Regions from separate parts of the Homo sapiens genome. Here regions 2, 3, 4 and 5 are each reported to be linked to region 1. The links are microRNA targets in miRTarBase. Many come from high-throughput screens and were not tested one by one. Region 1 holds a microRNA gene; each other region holds the end of a gene's coding sequence.

Region 1 (5,100 bases):
GACAGAGATCCTGTCTCAAAACAAAAAACAAAAAAAAACTAAGATGTCATCGATTATAAAAATGTCACTAAGAAAAGAGAATGCTGCCAGTTAACGATGTCCCAAGGTTCTTTCATCACTAGAATTTTTCTTTTGTATTTCTCGAAAGAGCTCTGTTTCACTTAAATGTAGATTCTTATCATATATAATTCTCATGCACACATAAAAAGGATAATAGAAGCAAAATAAATTGGTTACCATGTTCAGAAAACTCCTTCACATTTAGAGTCCAACTTGTTTGAATCATTTTTGGTCTGAGAGTCGTGATGTCTGTGTCTGCCTGCCACCTCCTTCTCTGAGTCCTTGAGAGTTCTACGGAGAGCAGTACTGCTCCAAACATTCCATAAAACAGCCAGGCGCTCTTAAGCCAGCTTTACAATTGTGCAGATGAAGTGGAGCCGAGTTTTCACTCTGCTCTAGGAGTGTCACTGACAGGCCGGGCGTGGTGGCTCACACCTGTAATCCCAGCACTTTCAGAGGCCGAGGTGGGTGGATTGCCTGAGGTCAGGAGTTCGAGACCAGCCTGGCCAACATGGTGAAACCCTGTCTCTACTAAAAACACAAAAAAGCATCTGGGCGTGGTGGCAGGTGCCTATAATCCCAGCTACTCAGGTGGCTGAGGCAGGAGAATTGCTTGAACCCGGGAGACGGAGGTTGCAGTGACCCGAAATTGCACCATTACACTCCAGCCTAGGCGACAGACACAGCGAGACTCCGTCTCACCAAAAAAAAAAAAAAAAAAAAAAAGGGAGTGTCACTGACAAGCCTGGTTCCCTTCCCCTGGGGTTTCCCACCATTTGAGTCCCAGGGCTAAAAAGGGTTCTGCTTGCCTCTAGGATTTCTTCCAAGCTGCTGACACTCTTCTGAAGGATTTGATGCTGGTGCTTTTCAGGTGTGGGTCCTGACAGTGATGTTGGGACGGCAGCTAGCCAGACAGCAACTGTACCATGTAAACTCACTTCAGAGGTGTAGAATGGGGGCTGCGTGAGGCAGCTCATGCCGTCATCTCAGCCCTTCAGGAGGCCAAGGCGGGAGGATCACTTGAGCCCAGGAGTTCGAGACCAGCCCGGGCAACACAGCAAGACTCTGTCTGTACAAAAAACAAGCAAAATAATTAGCCAGGTGTGGTGGCACACACCCGTAGTCCCAGTTACTCAGAAGGCTGAAGTAGGAGAATTGCTTAAGCCCAGGAGGTTGAAGTTGCAGCGAGTTGTGATCTTGCAACTGCACTCCAGACTAGGTCACAGATTCAGACTCTGTCTCTTAAAAACAAAACAAAACAAAAAGTGAAACGTGAACATTAAGCATCTTGGAATAGATAAAACATGCATAATTTCCAATCTTTTTGCTGACCATGCTTCCAGCTGCCTCAGAGCAGTTGCACATTCTGTTCCTGCTGCCTGGAATACCCTCCCTTCCTTTCCACTTTGCCCTGTTAACCCAGCCATCCCTGATCTCATGCGTACTCCAGGATGCCTTCCCTGATCATCCTGCCGAGGTCAAATCCCCTCCCCTTCATAGCACCTAGTATGGCTACAACAGTCTCGAGTGTATAGAGGATGGGGTGGGGTGAGGTCACAGGAATGATGCTCCCTTCTATCTGGGGTTCAAGGGAGGCTTCTTGGAGGAGCATCTGAACCAGGCTTCCCAGGGGATGTGGTTTGGGTAACTTTGAGAAATACTGAAGGGAAAAGAAAGAACGCTGTAGTGAGTGAAGCCTGGCATTTGGGAAGATGGGTGTGTGGGTGACCAAACTCACCACGCAAGGCCCAGAGCCCTTTTGAGGCCCTCGAAGGTCCCAGGCTGGGGTCATCCTCTCCAGTTTCAGTTTGAGAAAACAAGGCCCAGAGAGGTGAAGGGCTGTTCGGTCATTGCCCATGGAGCCAGGGGAGCTGTGGGCCTTCCGCCGCCAACCTCTGGGCTAGCCCTGCAGAGATGCTAGGAGGATGCAGGGAGGTGAGGTGGGGGCTGAGGTAGGACTCAGACTGCCCAGGCCCGCCTGCACCCGGAAGGAGGAAGCTGCACAGGGTGTCTGTGGCTGGCCCCGGGATCCCCCACTCGGGGACTTCCTCTTCCTCTCAGGGCAGGTGCAGCTGCCACAGTGAGACGGGCACCCCGACCCGGGCATGGAGGGGGGCAAGGGGCCCAGGCTCAGAGACTTCCTGAGTGGGAGTCTGGCTACCTGGGTGAGGGGGCAGGTGGCAGCGGGTTGGGGAGGGGAAGTGAGCCCCAGCCAGGGGCTGGTGTTGGCGCTGGCCGGGGGAGGGTGAGGCAGAACCAGGCCGGAGGGGAGGGCTGGGTTCAAATGTGGGGGATGGAGATATGGTGTGGGGGGCTGTGGTGAGGGAAGAGGGGACAGAGGCACTCAGAGGACGGGTGAGAAGGGGTGCTTGGGCTCACTGGGGCAGGTCGGAGGGGCTCAGGGTTCACTCTGCTGGTCGGCTGACCCCTCTGGGCTCCTCACAGGCGCTGGGACTGGCCGGGCTGGTCGGGGAGGCGGAGGACTCGGAGGGGGAAGAAGAGGAAGAGGAGGAAGAGCCGCCCCTTTGGTTGGAGAAGAGATTCCTGCGCCTCAGCGATGGGGCCCTGCTCCTCCGGGTGCTGGGCATCATGTAAGGGGCATCGGGCCGGGGCGGTGGCGGGGAAGGATCTGAGAGGAGGGGAAGCGGGTGGGCGGAGCCTGATGCTCAGTGGGCGGGGCCTGAGGGACGGTGGGCGAGGCCTGTTGACGGGAGGCGGGTCCTCGAGCCCACCTCCGGCTCATAGTGCCCCCAGCTCCCGAGGGGGACCTCGGATGCTCAGAGGCCTTGACGGACCTGCTGCCTGGCGAGTGTGGAACCTGAACCACCTGTGGGGCCGACTGAGGGACTTCTACCAGGTAAGGGGTCTCGAGGGAAAGGCGGAGACAGGAGGGGAAGAGGAGCCCCTTCGGGAAGGCGCCTCATATAGTCTGCCTCTCTGCCTCCAGGAGGAGCTGCAGCTGCTGATCCTGTCGCCACCCCCAGACCTCCAGACATTGGGATTTGACCCTCTCTCAGGTGCTCTCCCCACCCACACCCTCCTGCCTCTGCCCCCGCACTACTCTACCTTCCCCGCCCCAGTTAACCCCTTGTGGCATGTGCCTTGCAGAAGAAGCGGTGGAGCAGCTGGAAGGCGTTCTTCGGCTACTGTTGGGAGCGTCAGTACAGGTGAGCCGGCGGTGGGAAGGAAAGGTTAGGGTCGAGCTTTGGCGGTAGAGGAGGGAGATCCTGCACCAGCTCCCCTTCCTGTCTCCCCTCAGTGTGAGCACCGGGAACTCTTCATCCGCCACATCCAGGGCCTCAGTCTCGAGGTCCAGAGCGAGCTGGCCGCTGCCATCCAGGAGGTACTGAGACGGTTCGGCAGCCCAGACTGGTATGGCACCTGGGACGCCCTTGCCACACCGCGGCTTCCACTGAACTGCTCTTCCTGCGCCCCAGGTGACCCAGCCGGGGGCCGGCGTGGTGCTGGCACTGTCTGGGCCAGATCCTGGGGAGCTGGCACCTGCCGAGCTGGAGATGCTGTCCCGGAGCCTGATGGGGACACTGTCGAAGCTGGCACGGGAGCGTGACCTGGGGGCCCAGGTAGGGGCAGCAGGGGCATCGTGGACTCAGGTTGGGGAACTGGAGGACCATCAGGGAGCCGGTTGTGCAAGGGAGATGGAAGTTTGGGGCCCAGGCATGGGGTTGTGGTCTGAGGTCTTGGGCCATCAGTGATGTCACAACCAGATGGCCCAAGACCCCAGACCACAACCCCATGTCTGGTGTTGTGGTTGGGGGTCGATGTGCAGAGGCATTGGATAAGTTAGTCCTGACCCTTGACCCCTGACCTACAGCGGCTGGCTGAACTGCTGCTGGAGCGAGAACCCCTCTGCTTGAGGCCTGAGGCTCCCTCTAGGGCTCCCGCCGAGGGCCCCTCGCACCATCTGGCCCTGCAGCTGGCCAACGCCAAGGCTCAGCTGCGGCGTCTGCGGCAGGAGCTGTGAGTGTGCGCAGCCTGGGAAGGGGACTGAGTGGAGAGGGGCAGATTAAGCCTGGATGGGACCCTAGCCCTGGTGGCTACGGGAGGGGTCAGGCCTGGGAAGGGCTGGGGGTTGTGGGCCCCCAGACCCTCCCTAGACTCCCCTTCCCTCCAGGGAGGAGAAGGCCGAGCTGCTGCTAGACTCCCAGGCCGAGGTGCAGGGTTTGGAGGCCGAAATAAGAAGGCTCCGCCAGGAGGTGCGCTCACATGCTCCCCGCCACCGCGGCATTCCCTAACCTCCCCGCACCCGGTCCCATTGCCTCCCTCCCAACCCGGCTCCTTCCCGTCCCTAATCCCTCTGGCCCGCGGCTGGCTGTTCCCAGCTCCACACCGTCTGGCCCAGGCCCAGGCGCTGTCGGGACAGGCCAAGCGGGCCGAGCTGTACCGCGAGGAGGCAGAGGCGCTGCGGGAGCGGGCCGGCCGCCTGCCCCGCCTGCAGGAGGAGCTGAGGCGCTGCCGCGAGCGGCTGCAGGCGGCTGAGGCCTACAAGAGTCAGCTGGAGGTGAGGCGGAGACGGAGCCGCGGGGCGGGGCGTGCGCGAGGGGGCGGGCCAGGAGGAGGGGCGAGATTGGGTCCCGAGGGCAGAGAGGCAGGTTCTCTGGAGGGGACAGTCACAGGTGGAGAAATGGGTGAGGACAAATTCAGGGAGGTGGCGTCTGGGAAAGGGCCTCCAGAGGATGGGGCAGGTGTAGGGGAGTGGGGGGGCTGTGTAAGTGATGCAGCCTTGGAAGGAGGGCTGTTCCCGGGGGGGAGGGGCGGGGCATGGACAGAAGGGCGGGGCCTGCACAAAGGGCGGGGCCAGGGGCGAGGGAGAAAGTACCTGAAGAGATCTTGGTGGGAAGAAGATGGAAGGGAGTGGCGGGGCCTAGAGACTGATGGGGTGCAGGGTGGGGGAGGGAGGCAGGGTCTGTGACAGGCTGAGGGGAAGGAGTTTGGGACCCTCAGGCGCTGGAGTGCATGGGGGCTGCGTGGCTACCGGTTCTCCCTGCTCTCCCACCAGGAGGAGCGGGTGCTCTCGGGGGT
Region 2 (5,100 bases), not on the chromosome of region 1:
AGAAAAAAATAAAAACAAAACAAAAGAGCAATACACACTTCAACAGTCACTGCTCAGTCAAAACAGTGATTGTTGCAACATCATGGTGATGAACGTCCTGCCGGGTCCAGAGAGCTACAAATACAATCATGAAGTCAAGAGGATTCTCATTCCCTTCAAATATTTGATGTTTCCAAGATCTAGACCTTTAGAATTGCTCCTAAAGGGTATTATTTGCAGACATTCGAAATACAGATAAAATATTTTTCTCTTGAAGAGAAAGAGACCTAAAGGTCTTTATTTGTAGTTAAGTCCTCCAATAGGTCAGATTAACCAGTAGTTTCATAATACTGAACAACAGTAATGGTATGCATAATTCTTTTTGAGGGGGAAAAGCCAGATTGCTAAGAACTACTTGGATTTATGACTACATTTGCCTGACATTTCTCTTTCAAGGTAAGTAGAACATTTCTCCTGGGAGAAATCAGTTGTAGATTTATGGTAACATTTCTTTTAGAGGTAGCTTCCCACTCCCACCCACTGCCCACTGGATTAATACTATTCTTTTTGAGACCTGTCAGATGCTAACATGAGGTAGATGACTTGCCACAAGTGAGGTAGAAACTCAGCAAAAGCAGTCAGTGTGGTCTGGAATGCTGCGTCCTGTGCCCTTGGCCCTATAGAAAACCAGAGAAAGCCGTAGAGCTCTGGAGGCCCTGGCCCTGTGACACCATCACCTGCAAGTACAAGAGTGTGACTTTTATACAGCCCCAGACTGTTGGAAACTCATTCAGAGTGATGTTTTAAATATACCTTAAACATACCCTAAATACTTTTTGGCACCACTGGATTAAAAAAATAAGATCAGAAAAACAAGCCTAAAACTTTGGCATATCTTTCACCACCTACCAGAACAGAGCAATCGTAGAATCTTCCAACGAGGAAGGTAACACATATATAAACAGTATTTTGCTGCTTCAAGCCTAAAAGACTTTCCTCCTCAAATAATTAAGCTTTGGCTTAACTAGAATAAATCAGACTGAGCCGATCTCAAGCTATCTCTTGCAACTCCATCACAAAGTGCCTCAGTTCTGGCAACATTTTTGGCCCAACACGTAATTTGGATTCGGTTTATGGTACCCTTTGTTATGTGTTTCCCAAATAAGTTAGACTTAAAAGGGCATTGAGGAGTTAGTGCACTTGGGGTACAACCCAGGTCACTGTGCTCTAGTCAACTTGAGTGCCACTTGCAGCCACAACAGGGCACATGTTCTGAGACAGCATTAGATCTTGGGACCAAAAATAACACTTTTGAAATGTTAAGTCAGTGTCAAGCAAAAGTAGTTTTTACCTATGGGTTAGATGTCCTTTAAACATCTCAATACTCAAACCTATATATCCAAACCCAATGGGCATCTCCACACATAAACTGAGCTTACATCATACCCCACCCAACCCTTGCCACCTGACCAGATCAGACCTCCATGGGGACTAGTAATTGTCATACTTACTCCCCAGAAACCTTTTTATTCTCCTACCTCATAATACCCAGGACCTTATTTTTTCCATCAGGATGACGACTCCCTTCTTTGACCCAACTCCTGGCTACCTGGCATTACCCGGGCAGGAGATTATGCATTTAAACACAGGTACTTTTCACAGTTTCACACTAGGGACTGCCAAATGTTGGCTTTTATCATCTTTCTTTGATTTAGAACATTTCACATCATACAATAAACACTCTCCAAAGTGCTTCGCACCAATCCCTATGGGTCAGGAGTCAACCACGGGCAGGAAAAACCGCCAATGTTTTAAAAACAAAAGCTTTCCAAATGTGACCATGTTTCTCAAATACCAGTCATGCACCATTTTGGGTACAGAAAGGTAAGGAGATAGATATACCACCACTGAGGACAAAGAGGTAGTATCTCTGACCTACACACCTATTTCAGGGGATAGTTCTAGTTGCTCTAAGCCTGCAAATTTACAAGTCTGTAAATTAAGACCTGATAATTTCAGCCATGGAGCGAAAATCTTGGCTTTTCGATCACATCCATAGTAAAATGTCAAATAAGGAGCTCTAGTTACTGTTATGCACCAAGAACATTTCTCATTCAGGTCCCAAAATTTTCCTACATCTGGGGAAATTAGAAAGAAAAGAGCAGAATGAAAATGATGATGAAAAGATTTTAATCAAGATCCATCTCCTCAATAAAATTTTTTTCAAGCATTTAAAACCAGTTGTCTTTGGTGTTTAAAGGGTGGCTTGTTGGGCAGCTGGGGAAAGGGAAGGAAGATCAGCACCAAGTTACTCCAAAATAGAAAACAGTAAAAATGTTTAATTATATTAACTCTTTACCAAAGAACTTAGAGCTTAACGGCCAAAAGGCAACTGAATAGGCATTGGGGAAGGATTCACTATTAAATTCTACAGTAAAAGGAGCTTCTAACAAACAACATTTCCTAACACCTTCCCACCCTGTAACAGCAGCTGGGAGCCAGCAGCAGTTTGAAGCTACTTTCCAACTTTTGAATCTTTTATTGCATGCAGTTCTCCTCTGTGAGATGAGGTTTTTTTTTTCCTTCCCATTTTGGTCACTCAGAAACCCTAGAATTAAAGCAATGGGAAGAGACAGAGTAGCTTGTAGTAGTAGTAAATTAAACGTCCAAAAGAGGTGTACGGGAAAAGCAACTTGATTGACTTGTCACACTGTCCCCATCATCTCCTTTTCTATTGGGATAACAGAAACAAATTGCTCCATTTGTTAATCTGTTCTGCTCATTTAAAACGATACCCATTTTGCAATAGAAATTTCTCTTAAACAGAGGAACAGAAGTTGATCCATAAGTCTTTAAACAAGAGGTCTCCCTTGTAAGTCACTGACGTTTGTTTGAGAGTCCCTCTTTTCCCTGAGGAGGGCTCCTCCAGAATTTGGTTCTTATTTCAGTATTTGGGGCATTGCAGGAACCCACTGGGTTCTGACAAGCAGGGTATCAGCTACATCTGCTTTGCACTTGAAAGACAGACAATGCCCAGAAGCACAAGTTTTGTACCCAAGTCCAGCTTACAACCAACCAATCCTGTAAAGTGACACAGATTCTACCCCACAGTTCTGCAGTGGGAGCCTTAAATTTTCATTCTTTGGTACCGAGTTACAGGTTTAAGAAAAGACATTACATCCTACATTTCAGGTTGGGACAATTTGGTTTCTAGATCCTTTATGGTCAAAGGCCTTGGGGGGAGAGGGGGCGGGGGGATTCATGTTAACCATGAGGTCCTAAAGCATGGCCTGGGTGCAAACAATCCTATAAAAAGTGACCCAAGCAGAGGGTGTGGGACTGGGCTGTTGGTATTAATTTGACTTTCAAACCTTCTATTTCCCTGAACTTTCAAAGCAGGAAAAAATTGTGCTTGTAAAATAAAAGTTCTTTCCTTTGCCTACTCTTCTTAGGAAAAGAAACCCCTAGCACTACAGAACAACATGCACTCGCGGGTCAGGGCAGACCCTGCCCTTTCTGTGGAGTTCCTATAGTTTGGGGGTGCCTTGTTCTTTAATGTGCTCCCTGACTCCCTCAGCACACGCATGTCCACCCACATTCATGTCCACGTCAGCCCATGCCTGAAAACCCTCTCTCTGAGAACGAGGTTAATTTCCTTTTTCCTTCCATTTAACCCTTTATAACCTAACAGCAAAATAAGAAAGCATAACTTTTGAGAATATGTTTAATCAAAAATCCTGAGCTACCATCTATATACTTTTTTAAGAAACCAAAGTGTGAAAAGGAGAGGTTCTTTGGGAGGCAGTGTGTCATTTTCAGCTTTACTACTTGGGTGCAAGATGGCTTTGAAACAAACATGCACACACCCTCCCTTAAAAGAAACAAAGATTATATACCCTAAAATATGAAGGGTCTGCTTTTCTTGGCTAGCAAGCCACAGCCACAACGTCTAAGATCAAGAAACGATGCAGAAGAGGATGTTAAACACACTGAGGTATAAACAGAGAACAGAGGAAATTTCTCTGTTGCAGCATTTAAAAAGAGAAGATTTTCCAAAAAGATCAAAACAACACAACATAATCTAAACCCCATATAAACAGTATTCTCAAGAACACAGGTATTCTATAATTATGCATTTCAAATCCTATTTTTTCCATGTTTTATAGTTTTTTGTTTTTTTACTTAGTAGTTTTTTTTTGTGTTTCCTTGGCTCAATCTACAGAATACACCCCACCACACACATCCAGTGCCCTCCCAGCCATACAGATGCCAGGCTTGTGCATATCATGCCCCACGCAGGGGAAGAGGGAAATGCAAACTCCACTGAGGAGGGGAAGAGGGCCTGTTGCAGAAGGAAATGTAAAGATTTATGAGGTAGATAGAAATTATCACTTCACAGGCTCAATCCCTGCAGAAAAGATAAGTACATTCATCTGTAAAAAAATAAAGATGAGGTAGGACTTAAGCAATGTTGTACTTTTCTTGTTCTCTTTAAAAAAAAAAAAGAAAAAAGAAATTTCCCTGAGACTGTTTCTTCTTTGAAATTCAAAAAGAGAGAGAAAGAGAAAGAGAGAGAGAGAGAGAGAGACACGCACACACACCCCAAACACAGAAACCTAGGAAATGCAATTAGAAGACGAGGATTCGATTGTTGCCAAAGTCCACCACAACGATCATTCCGTCGGGGGTGATGGCGATGCCGGAAGGGCGGTCCATCTGCCCAAAGCCGCTGCCTTGAGCACCAAACTTGCACAGGAAGCTGCCGTTGGATTCAAACATCTGTACCCGATGGTTCCTGGAATCCGCCACAATGATGCGCCCTTCCTGGTCCACAGCTACCCCTTGTGGGCGCAGGAACTGCCCATTGCCTGTGCCCTCCGAGCCCAGAAAGCGTGCCGACTGGCAGTCGGGGTGAATAACCAGGAGCCGGTGGTTGTTGAAGTCAGTGACCACCAAGTGGCCCTCATGGTTGAAGGCCACACCCCGTGGGGAGTCAAAGTGCTTCCAGAGAGCCCCCTCGAAGCCATACTTGTTTAGGAAGACACCATCAGGCCCAAACAGCTGGATCCGGTGGTTCCTCGTGTCTGAGACCAGGATCTTGCCCTCAGAATTCACCGCCAC
Region 3 (5,100 bases), not on the chromosome of region 1:
GAGCCTGGTGAGGCAAGGGCAGACTCACCAGATGGTCTCAGAAAGCTCTTGGGCTTTGAGGGCAACACCCATGAGGAATTGAGGCCACTAGGGCCAGGACCAACCTATGAATTGCCCTCAGGGTGGGCAGAAACGCCAAGAGGCCCACAGGAGTCCTGGCAGAAGGGGATGCCATAGGCCGTTGCCACGGTGGGAGCCACAGCAGACTGTAGCCAGGTGCAGTGTGGTGAGAAGGAGGCTGGGAGCCACAGCAGATTGTAGACAGGTGCAGGAGGGTGAGAGGGAGGCTGGGAGCCACAGCAGACTGTAGACAGGTGCAGGGGGTGAGAGGGAGGCTGGGAGGAGGCATCCCAGGCCACACTGGACAGATCACCTCTGTTCCCCTAGGTGACACCACCTCTCCCTCGAGGCCACCAGGAGGCCCCATCATCACCGTCCACCCAAAGGAAATCCGGACGTTCTTTATTCACTTTCAACAGCAGTGAGCCCTGGGCAGATGCCCCGGCCCCAGGGCTTCCCCCAGGAACTCCATGTAACAGAACAGACCCAGGACAGGGAAAAGCAGTGCGGAGGGATGGGACTGGGGAGTCAGCTGCTCATCTGCAGGCTAATGGCAGGAAATGGTCATATTTGGGGTTTTTCCCTAATTTTTTTAAACAAAAATTACATTACAAGATCCAGGTTCTTCCCCCCCACACTCAATCAAGCCAGCCCTCTCCTCTTCTGTCACGTAAAGGATATTTGGCACACTCATGCGTCATTCATTCACAAAACACAAACCCAGGACTTTCTGCCTAAGGCAGAGCACAAGACTCACAGCAGCACCGAAGCGCATCTGCCGTCCGGGCCCTGCCAGGCTTGCCAGGCTGCCAGTGGTAACTGTGGACCTACTGCGTGCCACGTGTTTTCATAGACTCATCCCATGCTGGCAACAGCCCTGCAAGGGGCTTGGCTCTGCCACAGGGCAGGAGAGGAAGTTGTAGCGCCTAGCGAGAGTTCCAGCCCCAGACGCCCACCTGTGCCTCAGGGCACCGCCTGCCGAGCAGAGAAGGCACAGCAGCCGTCAGAGTCCATGAGAGGTGAAACCACACAGCAGGGATGTCCAATATCAGAACTATTAATATCAATAAAAGTATAACCTTCCCAGGTCTATGCCCAAGAGAATTGAAAACATCCATCCACACAATACCTGTGCTCCCGCGTTCATAGCAGCATTACTCAAAAGTCAAACGGTAGCAACAACCCAAATGTCCATCCACAGATGAATTAAGACATGAAGTGTGTTCTGTCCATACAATGGAATATTATTTGGCCATAAAAAGGAAGGAAATTCTGACGCATGCCACAGCCTGAGTGAATCCTACAAATATTACGCTAAGTGAAAGAAGCCAATCACGAGTTTATGTGAAATGTCCAGAATAGGCAAATCTGTGTATCAGAGACAAAGCACATTGGTGGTTGCCAGGTACTGGAGGAAGAGAGAAGAGGCATGACAGCTAACAGGGACGGGCTTTCTTTGGAAGATGATGAAATTGTGGAATGATGGTTGCACAACTTTGTGAATATACTAGAAACCAATGAATTAAAAACTTTGGAAGATGAATTTTATGGTCTGTGAATTATATCTCAATTTTAAAACTTTTTTTTTTTTTTCCCGAGACAGAGTCTCACTCTGTCGCCCAGGCTGGAGTGCAGTGTCAAGATCTCAGCTCACTGCGACCTGCACCTCCTGGGTTCAAGCAATTCTCCAGCCTCTGCCTCCCGAGTAGCTGCTACTAGAGATGCACCACTGCGTCAGCTAATTTTTGTATTTTTAGTAGAGACGGGGATTCACCATGTTGGCCAGGCTGATCTGGAACTCCTGACCTCAGGTGATCTGCCTGCCCCGGCCTCCCAAAGTGCCAGGATTACAGGCGTGAGCCAATGTGCCCGGCCTAAACCGTTTTAAAGAGTAAACTGTAAGATGTAGGAAATTATTTGGTACTCTAGGGCTGAAGGAAAGTACCCAGAAAGGACCAGCTTGGAAGGAGTCAGACCTCTGGACAACGTGCAGTTTGGCCACCAGACAGCAAAGACAGTCTCTGGTTTGGCCAGGCAGGAGCTGGGCTGGAGTTGCTGACCAAGCAATAGGCCACCCCTGTGAGGTGGGGTCAGGTGAGCAGCCACCAGAGGCATGGATGTGCAGTGGGAGGTTGAGGCACAAGGAGTGAGGCAGGAGCCCTTTAGAGCATGTGGGCTGCATGAGGCTTGGTTTCTGTGTCAAGAAGACTATGGAGGCTGGGCAGTGGTTCATGCCTTAATCCCAGCACTTTGGGAGGCCAAAGCAACCGGATCACTGGTGGTCAGTAGTTCAAGACCAGGCTGGCCAACATGGTGAAACCCCATCTCTACTAAAAATACAAAGTTAACCGGGTGTGGTGGTGTGCGCCTGTAGTCCCAGCTACTCGGGAGGCTGAGGCAGGAGAATCAATCACTTGAACCTGGGAGGCGGAGGAGACCTCCGCCTCTGCACTCCAGCCTGGGTGACAAGAGTGAGACTCCGTCTCAAAAAAAAAAAAAAAAGGAAGACTACGGAGGCCAGGCGTGGTGGTTCATGCCTGAAATTCCAACACGCTGGGAGCCCTAGGCAGAAGGATCGCTTGAGCCCAGGTGTTCCAGACCAGCCTCGGCAATATAGTGAGACCCCATCTCTACAAAAACTATTCTTTAGACGAGCGTGGTGGTGTGCACCAGTGGTCCCAGCTACTCTGGGGGCTGAGGTGGGAGGCTCACTTGAGCCCAGGAGGTCGAGGCTTCAGTGAGCCATGATCATGCCACTAACTCCAACCGGGGTAATAGAGCAAGACCCTGTCTCAGAAAAAAATAAAGAAGACTATGGAAATGTTATCCCCAGCGCAGCCAGGCTGTAGAAAAATCATGTGCACTGAAAGTACCATCACCCATGCTGACCATCCCCGTCCAGAACAGAAACAGCAAGAGAGCCACTTCCCCCTGCGGTCCCTCCAGCACCCAGCACCCTCAACTGGGAAGAGTGAGAAGAATATAGATGACAGGGGAAAACCCACCCACAATAGACAGAATATTGGCTAAAATCTAACATCCATTTGTTGCTTTGTTGTTATTTCATTTCATTTTACTTTTTTAGACACAGGGTCTCGCTCTGTCACCCAGGTGGGAGTGCAGTGGCACTATCATAGCTCACTGGAACCTCTTAACTCCTGGGCTCAAGTAGTCCTCCCATCCCACCCTCCTGAGTAGCTGGGACTACAAGCATGAGTCACTACACCCAACTAATTTTTAAAATGTTTGTGGAGACGCAGTCTCACTATGTTGCCCAAGCTGGTCTTGAACTCCTGAGCTCAAGCGATCCTCCCACCTAGGCCTCCCAAAGTGCTGGGATTACAGGCTCAAGCCACTGTGAATGGCCTGTTTTTTGTTGTTGTTGTTTGTTTTTTTTTTTTTTTTTTTTTTTTTTTTACAAACCACCACCACCAAACTCCCAATAAACTACGTTGCTCACTGACAATCCCCAACAGGTTTATTGCGGAACTTGACAGGATGATTCTGAAGTGCACTGGGGCTAGGTACAGTGGTTCGTGCCTGTAATCCCAGCACTTTGGGAGGCCAAGGTGGGTGGATCACTAGAGGCCAGGAGTTCGAGACCAGGCTGGCCAACATAGTGAAACCCCCTCTCTAAAAAAATACAAAAATTAGCCAGGCTTAGTGGCAGACGACTGTAATCCCAGCACTTTGGGAGGCCGAGGCGGGCTGATCACCTAAGGTCAGGAGTTCGAGACCAGCCTGACCAACATGGAGAAACCCCGTCTCTACTAAACATACAAAATTAGCCGGGCATGGTGGTGGGCACCTGTAATCCCAGCTACCCGGGAGGCTGAGGCAGGAGAATCTCTTGAACCCAGAAGGCGGAGATTGCGGTGAGCCGAGATCGTGCCACTGCGCTCCAGCCTGGGCGACAAGAGCGAAACTCTGTCTCAAAAAAAAAAAAACACACACACACACACACACACAAGTGCACATCTTCGTCCGTTTGGGCTGCTGTCATAGAATCCCGTACACTTTGGGAGGCCAAGGTGGGCGGATCACAAGGTCAGGAGATCGAGACCACAGTGAAACCCCGTCTCTACTAAAAATACAAAAAATTAGCCGGGCGTGGTGGCGGGCGGCCTGTAGTCCCAGCTACTCGGGAGGCTGAGGCAGAAGAATGGCGGGAACCCGGGAGGCGGAGCTTGCAGTGAACCGAGATTGTGCCACTGCACTCCAGCCTGGGTGACAGAGCGAGACTCCGTCTCAAAAAAAAAAAAGAATACCATACACTGAGTGGCTTATCAACAACAGGAATTTATTTCTCCCAATTCTGGATGCTGGGAGTCCAAGGTGCCAGCAGATTCGGTGTCTGGGGAGGGGCTGTTTCCTGGTCTATAGATGGTGCCGTCTTGCTCCGTCCTCACATGGCAGAAGGGGCAAGGCAGCTCTCTGGGCTCGGTTTCTAGGAGGGTGCTAATATAACAGTACTGAGTCTACCTTAAAGAAAAATTGTGTTTGCTTGAGTATAATTACAGCTTTGCTTACGCTTACACACTATTCATTAAAAACAGCCTCAGGGAAAGAGGACCTTCAGCAGAGATAAGAGAGAAGTGCACTGACCAGCAATCCTGGAAGCGGCTAGCCGCAGGTTTCCACCCACCAGATGAGAATAGTTGGGCTGAGGTCGAGGCAGGAGGATCACGTAAGTCCAAAAGTTTGAGACCAGCCTGGGCAAAATAGGGAGACCCCGTCTCTATAAATAGTAACAAAATTTAAGTAGGTGTGGCACACGCCTGTAGTCCCAGCTACTCAGGAGGCTGAGGTGGAAGGATCCCCTGAGCCAGTGAAGTCAAGGCTGCAATGAGCCATGCCTGGGCAACAGAGTGAGACTGTCCAAAAAAAAAGCAAAACTAAGACTAATCTGGCTGGCCTGGTGCAGCCAGCACTTTGGGAGGCTGAGGGGGAGAGATCATTTGAGCCCAGGAGTTGGAGACCAGCCTGGGCAACTTGGTAAAACCCAATCTCTAAAAAAAATTTTAAAATTAGCCAGGTGTG
Region 4 (5,100 bases), not on the chromosome of region 1:
CTCTGCTGTGTGTCCTGCATCAAGAAGGCCTCGGGCCCCAACCCTGGCCCAGACCCTGGCCCAACCTCACTGCCCCCCTTCTCCACTCCTGGAAGCCCCTTACCAGGACCCCAGGACCCTGCAGATGCTGCAGAGCCTCCTGGAAAGCCAACGGGATCAGAGGACCATCAGCATGGCCGAGCCACACAGCTCCCAGGAGCTCTGGATACAAGCTCCCCAGGGACCCAGCATCCCTTTGCCCCTGAGACACCAATCCCTGGAGCATCCTGGAGCATCTCCCCTACCACCCCCGGGGGGCTGCCTTGGGGCTGGACTCAGACACCTACGCCAGTCCCTGAGGACAAAGGGCAACCTGGAGAAGACCTGAGACATCCCGGCACCAGCCTCCCTGCTGCCTCCCCGGTGACATGAGCTGTGCCCTGCCATCCCACTGGCACGTTTACACTCTGTGTACTGCCCCGTGACTCCCAGCTCAGAGGACACACATAGCAGGGCAGGCGCAAGCACAGACTTCATTTTAAATCATTCGCCTTCTTCTCGTTTGGGGCTGTGATGCTCTTTACCCCACAAAGCGGGGTGGGAGGAAGACAAAGATCAGGGAAAGCCCTAATCGGAGATACCTCAGCAAGCTGCCCCCGGCGGGACTGACCCTCTCAGGGCCCCTGTTGGTCTCCCCTGCCAAGACCAGGGTCAACTATTGCTCCCTCCTCACAGACCCTGGGCCTGGGCAGGTCTGAATCCCGGCTGGTCTGTAGCTAGAAGCTGTCAGGGCTGCCTGCCTTCCCGGAACTGTGAGGACCCCTGTGGAGGCCCTGCATATTTGGCCCCTCTCCCCAGAAAGGCAAAGCAGGGCCAGGGTAGGTGGGGGACTGTTCACAGCCAGGCCGAGAGGAGGGGGGCCTGGGAATGTGGCATGAGGCTTCCCAGCTGCAGGGCTGGAGGGGGTGGAACACAAGGTGATCGCAGGCCCAGCTCCTGGAAGCCAAGAGCTCCATGCAGTTCCACCAGCTGAGGCCAGGCAGCAGAGGCCAGTTTGTCTTTGCTGGCCAGAAGATGGTGCTCATGGCCATACTCTGGCCTTGCAGATGTCACTAGTGTTACTTCTAGTGACTCCAGATTACAGACTGGCCCCCCAATCTCACCCCAGCCCACCAGAGAAGGGGGCTCAGGACACCCTGGACCCCAAGTCCTCAGCATCCAGGGATTTCCAAACTGGCGCTCACTCCCTGACTCCACCAGGATGGCAACTTCAATTATCACTCTCAGCCTGGAAGGGGACTCTGTGGGACACAGAGGGAACACGATTTCTCAGGCTGTCCCTTCAATCATTGCCCTTCTCCGAAGATCGCTCCTGCTGGAGTCGGACATCTTCATCTTCTACCTGGCTCAAGCTGGGCCAGAGTGTGTGGTTCTCCCAGGGGTGGTTGGACCCCAGGACTGAGGACCAGAGTCCACTCATAGCCTGGCCCTGGAGATGACAAGGGCCACCCAGGCCAAGTGCCCCAGGGCAGGGTGCCAGCCCCTGGCCTGGTGCTGGAGTGGGGAAGACACACTCACCCACGGTGCTGTAAGGGCCTGAGCTGTGCTCAGCTGCCGGCCATGCTACCTCCAAGGGACAGGTAACAGTCTTAGATCCTCTGGCTCTCAGGAAGTGGCAGGGGGTCCCAGGACACCTCCGGGGTCTTGGAGGATGTCTCCTAAACTCCTGCCAGGTGATAGAGGTGCTTCTCACTTCTTCCTTCCCCAAGGCAAAGGGGCTGTTCTGAGCCAGCCTGGAGGAACATGAGTAGTGGGCCCCTGGCCTGCAACCCCTTTGGAGAGTGGAGGTCCTGGGGGGCTCCCCGCCCTCCCCCTGTTGCCCTCCCCTCCCTGGGATGCTGGGGCACACGCGGAGTCATTCCTGTGAGAACCAGCCTGGCCTGTGTTAAACTCTTGTGCCTTGGAAATCCAGATCTTTAAAATTTTATGTATTTATTAACATCGCCATTGGACCCCAAAAGGTTGTGTGTGTGTTTCTTTTTCTCTCTCTGATTTATGGGAAGGGGACAATGAAGCCAGAGCTCGAAGGTTGAGGGCTGGGCTGTAGCAAGAGAACTGGGGGTGGGGGCGCAGCTCACTGTGGCTGTCTCCTGTCCCTCCACCTTTCCACCCATGCCCTGCTGCGTCACTGCCAGGTGGGACACAGGGTTGCCACTGGTTTCTTGGCTACTGAATCTCCTGTTTCCCTGAGGCCCAAGTTCCAGGACAACACTTTATTTCAGGTTATTGTGAAATTCTCAACCTGTTTAAATGCAACTAGAGGCCAGTGGGGCAGAGTGGCTCATGCCTGTAATCCCAGCACTTTTGGAGGTGGGAGTTCCAGACCAGCCTGAGCAACATAGCAAGATCCCGTCTCAACAAAAAATAAAAAGAACATTAGCCAGGCGTGGTGTTGCACGCCTGTGGTCTCAGCTATTTAGGAGGTGGAAGTGAGAGGATCCCTTGAGCCCAGGAGTTTGAGGCCACACTGAGCTGTGATTGCGCCATGGCACTCCAGCCTGGGTGACAGAGCATGACCCTGTCTCAAAAACAAAAAAGAACAACAAGAGGGGCTCTCTAAAGGAATCTTAGCAACCACAGAACAAAGAGACTGTCACTGAAAGCAAAATGACTGCAACCACTTTTGCCTTCTAAGCAGTGGCAGAATTTGTGTCATGGAGTAAAAGAATCTACACTGCTGGGCACTTAGAAAAGGTGAAGCTGGCAAAAGGGCTTCTTGTCATTGTGCAGAGCTCACTCCTCCCCTTAAGGCCGAGGAGAAAATGGTTTGGAGACTCCTACCCCCGTGGGGGTGGGAACACAGAGAGGGCAGCCTCTCCATCTGTCTTTGGCTGGGGGCTTTTTAGGATGCAGGTTGTCTAATATGTCTAAGGTTCAATTAAATTTCTGTTGCCATCTCCCCAAACATCTGGAAATGTCCACTCTCCAAATTGAGGGCTTTTTATGGGTCAGGATTTTTGCTTGTTTTGGTGGAAACTGAGAAAATGAAAGGATTCACGGGTGAAGATAGAGGAACAGCACCAAGGGCCCTCTTTCCATCGCAGCCTCAGAAACATCCCTCACTTCCTGTAGGAGCCCAGTGGGAAAGGCCATATGGGAATGGTCTCACCTCTTCCTGCCCTAAACGGTTTCCTGTTTGGAGTCTGGTGGGTGCAGGTGCCAGGGTGCCAGATTGCCTGTCTCTTCCCTGGAGGGGATTCTCCAGGCCACTCTGACTTCAAGGCTTTATCCACACCTGCCCCATGCTTGGCAGAGCCCTGCCGCAGTGACAGCCAGGTGCCCAGAGTCTAGCCTATCAGCCCCGACTGGCTTCCAGAGCCTTTGCCCTGGTCTGCCAAGCTTCCTCAACCCATAGCCAGGGGCCAGCACACCTGTCATTTTGGAGGAAGCCCCCTGAAGTTCCAGCATCTCCTTGCCCTTGGGGTCAGTAGGGACAGTGCTGCACAGAGTCACCCTTAGCCTCCTGTTCAAAGAGCCTGGGAAGTCCTCACCATGGCTGTCTTCTGTGTCCAGATGGCCTCCTTGAGGTTCCAGCCTGTGACTTCATTTGGGCTAGTAAGGCCTGAAAGCTCCTGGTGGAGAAGGGATCGGGGGGATGGCAAGGGTTTAGGGACAGCAGGAGACTTACCTTCCCATTCCTCCAGAGGAGAAAAGGGGCAATTGGAGCCTCATCATGTTCCTGGGCAATAGACTGGCCTCTGGGCCCTTTTTTGATTTACCCTCCTGGTGAAACTCCAGGCCTTCCACCTGAAATGACACAGCAGGCAGGGGAAGAGGGGAAGGCACAGAGCCTGGGCCATCTGACCTGGAACTCTGTGGGCTCTTCCAAAGAGCCCCTGCTCCCTACCTGGCTTCAGGAGACTGAAGGCTTGGGGGAAGGTAGGGGTCTGGGGGGAGGAGGGAAAGAGCAAGAAGGGGTGGAAATGTAGCTGGGGCAGTCCCAGGGACCCAGCTGCCACAGATTAGAAATCTCTGGGGCCTACACCACAAATCTTCTCCTTTAAAAAATTATGCAAGAAATATATGCTCATTATTGAAAAATTTTACAACCTGAGGAAAAAAAATCTATAATTCTACTTAGCAATAACCACTGTTAATAATTTAGTTATCCATTCCAGATGTGTGCATGTGCAAGATTGTTTGTGTCTGTACACACACACATGCACGCTGGGTGAGTATTATTAATACTATACACATACACGTCATCTGGGATCTTCTCCCCCTCCTACTCCACCTACAGCAATACAATAAGAACACGTTTCCATCCTGAGCTACGTTGAACTACGTATTTTTTTTTTTTTGACAGAGTTTCGTTCTTGTTGCCCAGGCTGGAGTGCAATGGTGCGATCTCGGCTCACTGCAACCTCTGCCTCCCAGGTTCAAGTGATTCTCCTGCCTCAGCCTCCCGAGTAGCTGGGATTACAGGCATGCACCGCCACTCCTGGCTAATTTTGGATTTTTAGTAAAGATGGGGTTTCTCCATGTTGGTTAGGCTGGTCTTGAACTCCCAACCTCAGGTGATCTGCCTGCCTCAGCCTCCCAAAGTGCTGGGATTATAGGCATGAGCCACCGTGCCCAGCCACGTCTTCATTTTTAATGACTGCACAGTACCCCACGGTATGGCTAGATGACCATTTATTTAACCAAATCCCCCAGTACCATAAACTTCCTGTACAGCCTGTGGAACCATGAGCCAACTAAACCTCTTTTATTTATGAATTACCCAGTCTCAGGTAGTTCTTTGTAGCAATGTGAGAATGGACTAATACAGAAAATTGGTACCAGAGAAATGAGGCATTGCTATAAAGATAACTGAAAATGTGGAAGCGACTTTGGAAGTAGGTAACAGGAAGAGGCTGGAACAGATTGAAGGGATCAGAAGAAGACTGGAAGAGGTGAGAATGTTTGGAACTTCCTAGAGATTTGTTGAATGTTGTGAACAAAATGCTGATAGTGATATGGACAGTGAATTCCAGGCTGAGGAGGTCTCAGTTGGAGATGAGAAATTTATTGAGAACTGTAGTAAAAGTCACTCTTGCTATGCTTTAGCAAAGAGACAGG
Region 5 (5,100 bases), not on the chromosome of region 1:
TCAGGGCCTTTGCATAGGCTGTTCCTCTGCCTGGGTGCTTTTCCTGCTACTTCCCGTGGCTGCATTTGCTTAACTTACTCTTCTGATTTCAGTCTCAATGCTGCTTCCTTAGGGGTAAGCCTTCTCTGACCCTACATTCTGTAGAGATACCCCCATTCTGCCATTCTCTCTTTTGTGGCCTGGGTTTCACTTGTAACTAAGTCATTATCCCTGTATTTGGTTTGCTTAGTACATGTCTGTCCTCAAGCAGGGGCTGGCTTCAGGCTGCTGACCCGTCTCACTGCTCCTTCTCACCCGCCTCCTGGCTGTGGCTTCTCCTCGAGGCTGGTGCTGCACGGGGCGGGCAGTGCATGGCCATGTCTCCTTGTCCAGCGTCCTACTTACAGTTGAGGAAGCCCACAGCCAGGAAGTGACTTGTCCAGGGTCACAGGGAATGTGGAGAGAGAATAAGAAGGCTCTGGCTTCTAGGGGAGGGAGGCTTATAACTCTACCCTTCCCTGGCCAGGATCACCAGGGTCTGTTGGGAACACATAGTCCCTGCCTGGATGGTAACCCTCTTGCCTCCTCCCAGATGTCCAGTGCCTGGAAGACGGTGGCCTGCGGGGGGACCAGGGACCAGCTTTTCATGCAGGAGAAAGCCCGGCAGCTCCTGGGCCGCCTGAAGCCCAGCCACACATCTCGGACCCTCATCTTGTCCTGAGGTGTTGAGGGTGTCACGAGCCCATTCTCATGTTTACAGGGGTTGTGGGGGCAGAGGGGGTCTGTGAATCTGAGAGTCATTCAGGTGACCTCCTGCAGGGAGCCTTCTGCCACCAGCCCCTCCCCAGACTCTCAGGTGGAGGCAACAGGGCCATGTGCTGCCCTGTTGCCGAGCCCAGCTGTGGGCGGCTCCTGGTGCTAACAACAAAGTTCCACTTCCAGGTCTGCCTGGTTCCCTCCCCAAGGCCACAGGGAGCTCCGTCAGCTTCTCCCAAGCCCACGTCAGGCCTGGCCTCATCTCAGACCCTGCTTAGGATGGGGGATGTGGCCAGGGGTGCTCCTGTGCTCACCCTCTCTTGGTGCATTTTTTTGGAAGAATAAAATTGCCTCTCTCTTTGTGCTGGTCTGGACTCTGCCTCTCTACTGGGCCCTGCTCATGGTTCCCTGGTGACCTAGGGGCCTCTTCTGGGATATAGGGACCTGAATGCTCATCCTCAGAGGCCAGCCTTATCGGCACAGCCCAGGCCTGAGCCCTTGACCCTGTTTCCACAGAGGGGCACAATGAGATGAGAGCAATTTCTCTCGTCTCTGCACCCAGTGGGCATCTCTGCAAAGCTCTGAGTATTAATAGCCATGGGGTTGGGCGGGGGTGGGCAGAGACTGGGGGCGGAGGAGGACGATGGGTTGGTGCAGTAGGGCCTTGCCTGGCCCTTGCCTTGGGTGGCTCACCTGCCCATTAACAAGCCCCTGCCTCAAGCTGAGCGTGGCCCCCAGGTCAGACCAGTAAGCAAGGAAGAGGGGTGAAGGCAGCTGGGCAGAACCCTCTAGCCCCATTGGCCAAGGCTGAGCAGGAGGCCAGGATGGGCCAGAGCCTCTGCCCTTGTGGCCCTAAATCCCTAGGGTTGTGGCTACAGAGCACAGTGCTTGGCAGGTGGTTGGGAAGAGTCACTGGGGATTGAAGAGGGGAAGATGCCAAGTCTGAGAATGTCTAAATGAGGAATTGATGTTTTCAGCAGCAGGCTTCATGGGACAGGCACATGAACATCCCTGTGGGCAGAGGTTGAGCAGACTTGGGGCAGGTCCTCACCTGGGGCAAGAGATGCGGCCAACTCTAGAGGGATGGGGACTGAGTTAATTAGGGTGCCAGAGTTCAGATGTGTCTGGCCTCAGACACACCCCTTTCTCCCTGCTGAGCTCCCGCCTACAGTCCCCCTACTCCTGTCCATTCACATGCAGGCATGCCGTGCTTGGTCCTGGCAGTGTCCCAGTTCTTGATCTAAAGCCGAGGAGGGGCGGGGGCTCTGTGCTTCCCACCCTGCACCCCGCACCCCGCAGCCCATGTGGCTGGGCTGCATGCACCTGCAGGTTCCATGGATGAACCACACCTAACTCACGCCCTGAGCTTTTGTGATTTGTCAGCATGGAGCCTATCCCCTCCCCAACTTCTTCCCCAAGGTCTGTCACTGGCCGCTCCCTACAGTCCTTGGTCACCCAAGGTGGATGACCTGTGCCCCACGGTGAGGATGGAGGCTGCATTACCTTGTCTCCTATAGCTCACACCAAGACTCGGTGGAACAACTTTGTCAAACTCAAATGCAGTGCGCTGCAGGCTAATGATGAAAATTCCTGGGCCCTCTGAGTCAGGTACCTGGGGTGGAGCCTGCAAAAAGGGATTTTTAACAAACCACCAGTGGGTTATTCACATGCAGGGCGTTGACTGGCTACACTCTGAGCTGACGCCTGTGAGGCTCCAGGGGCTTGTACCCCATGCCCTCTCTTGCCTGAGGTCTTGCTCATTCCCAGGGACTGCCCTCAGGCCCTTTCCTGTCCTGGAGGGAGGAGGCTGTAAAGAACAGAGTGGCTGCAGGTAACAGCAAGCTTAACATACCATCCTCACTGAGCTCTGTGTGCTGTGGGCTTGTTCTTTGGTTCATGCATTAAATAAATACTAGGCCGGGTATGGTGGCTCACGCCTGTAATCCCAACACTTTGGGAGGCCGAGGAGGCCAAATTGCTTGAGTCTAGGAGTTTGAGATAAGCTTGGGCAGCATCATGAAACCCTCTGTCTACTAAAAAAAAAATAGAAAAAATTAGCTGGGCATGGTGGCATGTGCCTTTAGTCCCAGCTCCTCGAGAGGCTGAGGTGGGAGAATCACCTGAGCCCAGGAGGTCGAGGCTGCAGTGAGCTGAGATCATTCCACTGCACTCCAGCCTGGGCAACCAGAGGGAGACACTGTCTCAAAAACAAAAACAAAACCACATTTATTGAGGGACCCTCCAACCCTACCCCCACATGTCTGGCATAGTTGTAGTGCTGAAGATATAGCAGTAAAGGATAGAAACCAGGCCAGGTGTGGTGGCTCATGCCTGTAATTTAGTACTTTAGGAGGCTGAGGTGGGAGGATCACTTGAGCCCAGGAGTTTGAGACCAGCCTGGGCAACATGGTGAAACCCCATCTCTACAAAAAATTTTAAAAACTTAGCATGATAGCATGATGGCTCATGCCTGTAGTCCCAGCTACTCAGGAAGCTGAGGTGGGAGGATCTCTTGAGCTGTGGTTGTGCCTCTCTACTCCGGCCTGAGTGACAAAGCAAGACCCTATCTCAAAAGACAAAAACCAAAAAACTACCTTATTCTCATGGAGCTTAAATTCTTTTTTTTTTTTTTTTTTTTGAGATGGAGTCTTGCTCTGTTGCCCAGGCTGGAGTGCAGTGGTGCGATCTTGGCTCATTGCATGCTTCGCTTCCTGGGTTCACACCATTCTCCTGCCTCAGCCTCCCGAGTAGCTGGGACTACAGGCACCCACCACCATGCCCGGCTAATTTTTTTTTTGCATTTTTAGTAGAGACAAGGTTTCACCGTGTTAGCCAGGATGGTCTCGATCTCCTGACCTTGTGATCCGCGTGCCTCAGCCTTCGAAAGTGCTGGAATTACAGGCGTGAGCCACTGCGCCCGGCCATGGAGCTTAAATTCTAAAAAGCAGACAGATATAAACCAACCAATTGATATAAAATGTGCCAGAGGGAACTTTGAAGTAAAGCAGGGGGTACCGTGAGGCCAGTCATCTGCTCAGAGAAAGTGGGGAGGAGTCAGATTTGACAGCTCCTGGCCATCATGGGGACAGGGAGAGCCCACATGGGAAGGCAGATTGGTTGCCACTCAGGAGGTGCTGGGGGCCCAGCTGCTGTTTGATCAGGAGTTTGGGGAACTTGGTCATGAGGATTGATCCAGGCCTGATGTTTCCCAGGCTAGTGTGGCAAGCAAGAAAGAGTTAGCCAGATAGCGCTGAGGGGCAGAGGGCCTGAGTTCAGGATGGTAGTACAGGAGTGGGGGTGCTGCGGTCAGCCTGGGAGAGGGACAGGCAGGAGGGAAAGATGAGGCTTAGTTAAGATGGCAGAGGGAGGCTGGGCGTGGTGGCTCATGTCTGTAATCCCAGCACTTTGGGAGGCCGAGGCAGGCAGATCATCTGAGGTCGGGAGTTTGAGACCAGCCTGACCAACATGGAAAAACTCCGTCTCTACTAAAAATACAAAATTAGCCGGGCATGGTGGCGCATGCCTGTAATCCCAGCTACTTTGGAGGCTGAGGCAGAAGAATCGCTTGAACCCAGGAGGCGGAGGTTGCGGTGAGCCAAGATCGCACCATTGCACTTACTCTAGCCTGGGCAACAAGAGCAAAACTATCTTGGAAAAAAAAAATGGCAGAGGGTGAATCTGCCATTCTGGCAAGATCCAGATGATTGTCTGGCATTTGGTGACCAGCATGGCCTGGAGGTGAGAGGCTCACAGATATAGAGGCTGTGGTAGATTGTTCCAGCAATGGCTCCCTAGGGATCACTGCTCCCTGTAGCTATTCCCATGAGTGGGTCATGTGGTTGACTTTGCCCCTGAGGGACTCTGGGAGAATCTGCTGAAGGAGGTGAGAATTCTAGCTGTTCTGGTTGAGACTCCAGACGTGAGTAAGGCCACCCTAAACCATCCAGCCTCACCTGATCTGGCCCAGACTGGAGGAACTGCCCATCTGATCACAAAGTCATGAGAATAATAAATCAGTATTGCTTTAAGCCCTAAGATTGAGGATGGTTTGTTACACAGCAGAAGCTGACTGATAGAGATGCTGGCATGAGGAACTGGGACATGTGAGTACTTAAGGTGGTCCAGGATAAAGATAAAATGTCCTTCTCAGAGCAAGGCAGGGACTGGGGCAGGAGCAGTTTTGATAGGCCAGGAGTAGTTTGGGAGTCTTAATTAGCCACTTTTTCAGCAGACCCTGGTGTATCACTGAGGAAAATCAACACTGAGCCATGGGCTCATCAGGGTTGGGGAGAAACAGGAGACCTAGGGTTCCAGGAACTTTGCGGGAAATGAATGGGGTGAAGGATTCTGGAGTTCAAAGCCACT

The links. The annotated mature microRNA hsa-miR-7155-5p reads UCUGGGGUCUUGGGCCAUC and lies in region 1 at 3,785-3,803, opposite strand. An mRNA with a match to its seed (bases 2 to 7 or 8) in the 3' UTR can be bound and repressed. Matches are read on the target gene's strand: a 7mer-m8 pairs with bases 2 to 8, a 7mer-A1 pairs with bases 2 to 7 and ends in A, and an 8mer does both.
Region 2: the mRNA of TRIM71 is a reported target of hsa-miR-7155-5p. Seed matches in the 3' UTR shown: 7mer-A1 at 2,117-2,123.
Region 3: the mRNA of MAN2B2 is a reported target of hsa-miR-7155-5p. Seed matches in the 3' UTR shown: 7mer-A1 at 1,003-1,009.
Region 4: the mRNA of ADAMTS14 is a reported target of hsa-miR-7155-5p. Seed matches in the 3' UTR shown: 7mer-A1 at 832-838, 7mer-m8 at 1,141-1,147 and 7mer-m8 at 1,429-1,435.
Region 5: the mRNA of MYBL2 is a reported target of hsa-miR-7155-5p. Seed matches in the 3' UTR shown: 7mer-A1 at 822-828.

Annotation. Positions count from the first base shown.
Region 1 is chr11:64,338,102-64,343,201 of GRCh38, forward strand. It overlaps MIR7155 (microRNA 7155), which reads right to left and starts at 3,803; the gene lies at 3,748-3,803. It overlaps CCDC88B (coiled-coil domain containing 88B), which reads left to right and starts at 2,103. Exons shown (of 27, transcript NM_032251.6): 1 at 2,103-2,225; 2 at 2,506-2,651; 3 at 2,806-2,917; 4 at 3,008-3,077; 5 at 3,169-3,227; 6 at 3,320-3,403; 7 at 3,498-3,641; 8 at 3,893-4,038; 9 at 4,193-4,274; 10 at 4,421-4,579; 11 at 5,078-5,100. The coding sequence starts at 2,166. It overlaps LOC102723878 (a long non-coding RNA gene), which reads right to left and starts at 2,691. Exons shown (of 4, transcript NR_188518.1): 1 at 2,440-2,691; 2 at 1,799-1,977. RefSeq lists silencers at 2,642-2,721, 2,742-2,791, 4,656-4,950.
Region 2 is chr3:32,891,320-32,896,419 of GRCh38, reverse strand. TRIM71 (tripartite motif containing 71) reads right to left here. Exons shown (of 4, transcript NM_001039111.3): 4 at 1-5,100. The coding sequence ends at 4,609. Among named protein-coding and RNA genes, the nearest start is that of CCR4, 58 kb to the left of the region's middle.
Region 3 is chr4:6,620,801-6,625,900 of GRCh38, forward strand. MAN2B2 (mannosidase alpha class 2B member 2) reads left to right here. Exons shown (of 19, transcript NM_015274.3): 19 at 388-2,562. The coding sequence ends at 485. Among named protein-coding and RNA genes, the nearest start is that of MRFAP1, 17 kb to the right of the region's middle. RefSeq lists a silencer at 1,650-1,843.
Region 4 is chr10:70,760,443-70,765,542 of GRCh38, forward strand. It overlaps ADAMTS14 (ADAM metallopeptidase with thrombospondin type 1 motif 14), which reads left to right. Exons shown (of 22, transcript NM_080722.4): 22 at 1-1,999. The coding sequence ends at 411. Among named protein-coding and RNA genes, the nearest start is that of TBATA, 22 kb to the right of the region's middle. RefSeq lists an enhancer at 1,344-2,113.
Region 5 is chr20:43,715,388-43,720,487 of GRCh38, forward strand. MYBL2 (MYB proto-oncogene like 2) reads left to right here. Exons shown (of 14, transcript NM_002466.4): 14 at 572-1,095. The coding sequence ends at 700. Among named protein-coding and RNA genes, the nearest start is that of GTSF1L, 9.1 kb to the right of the region's middle. RefSeq lists a silencer at 5,028-5,100.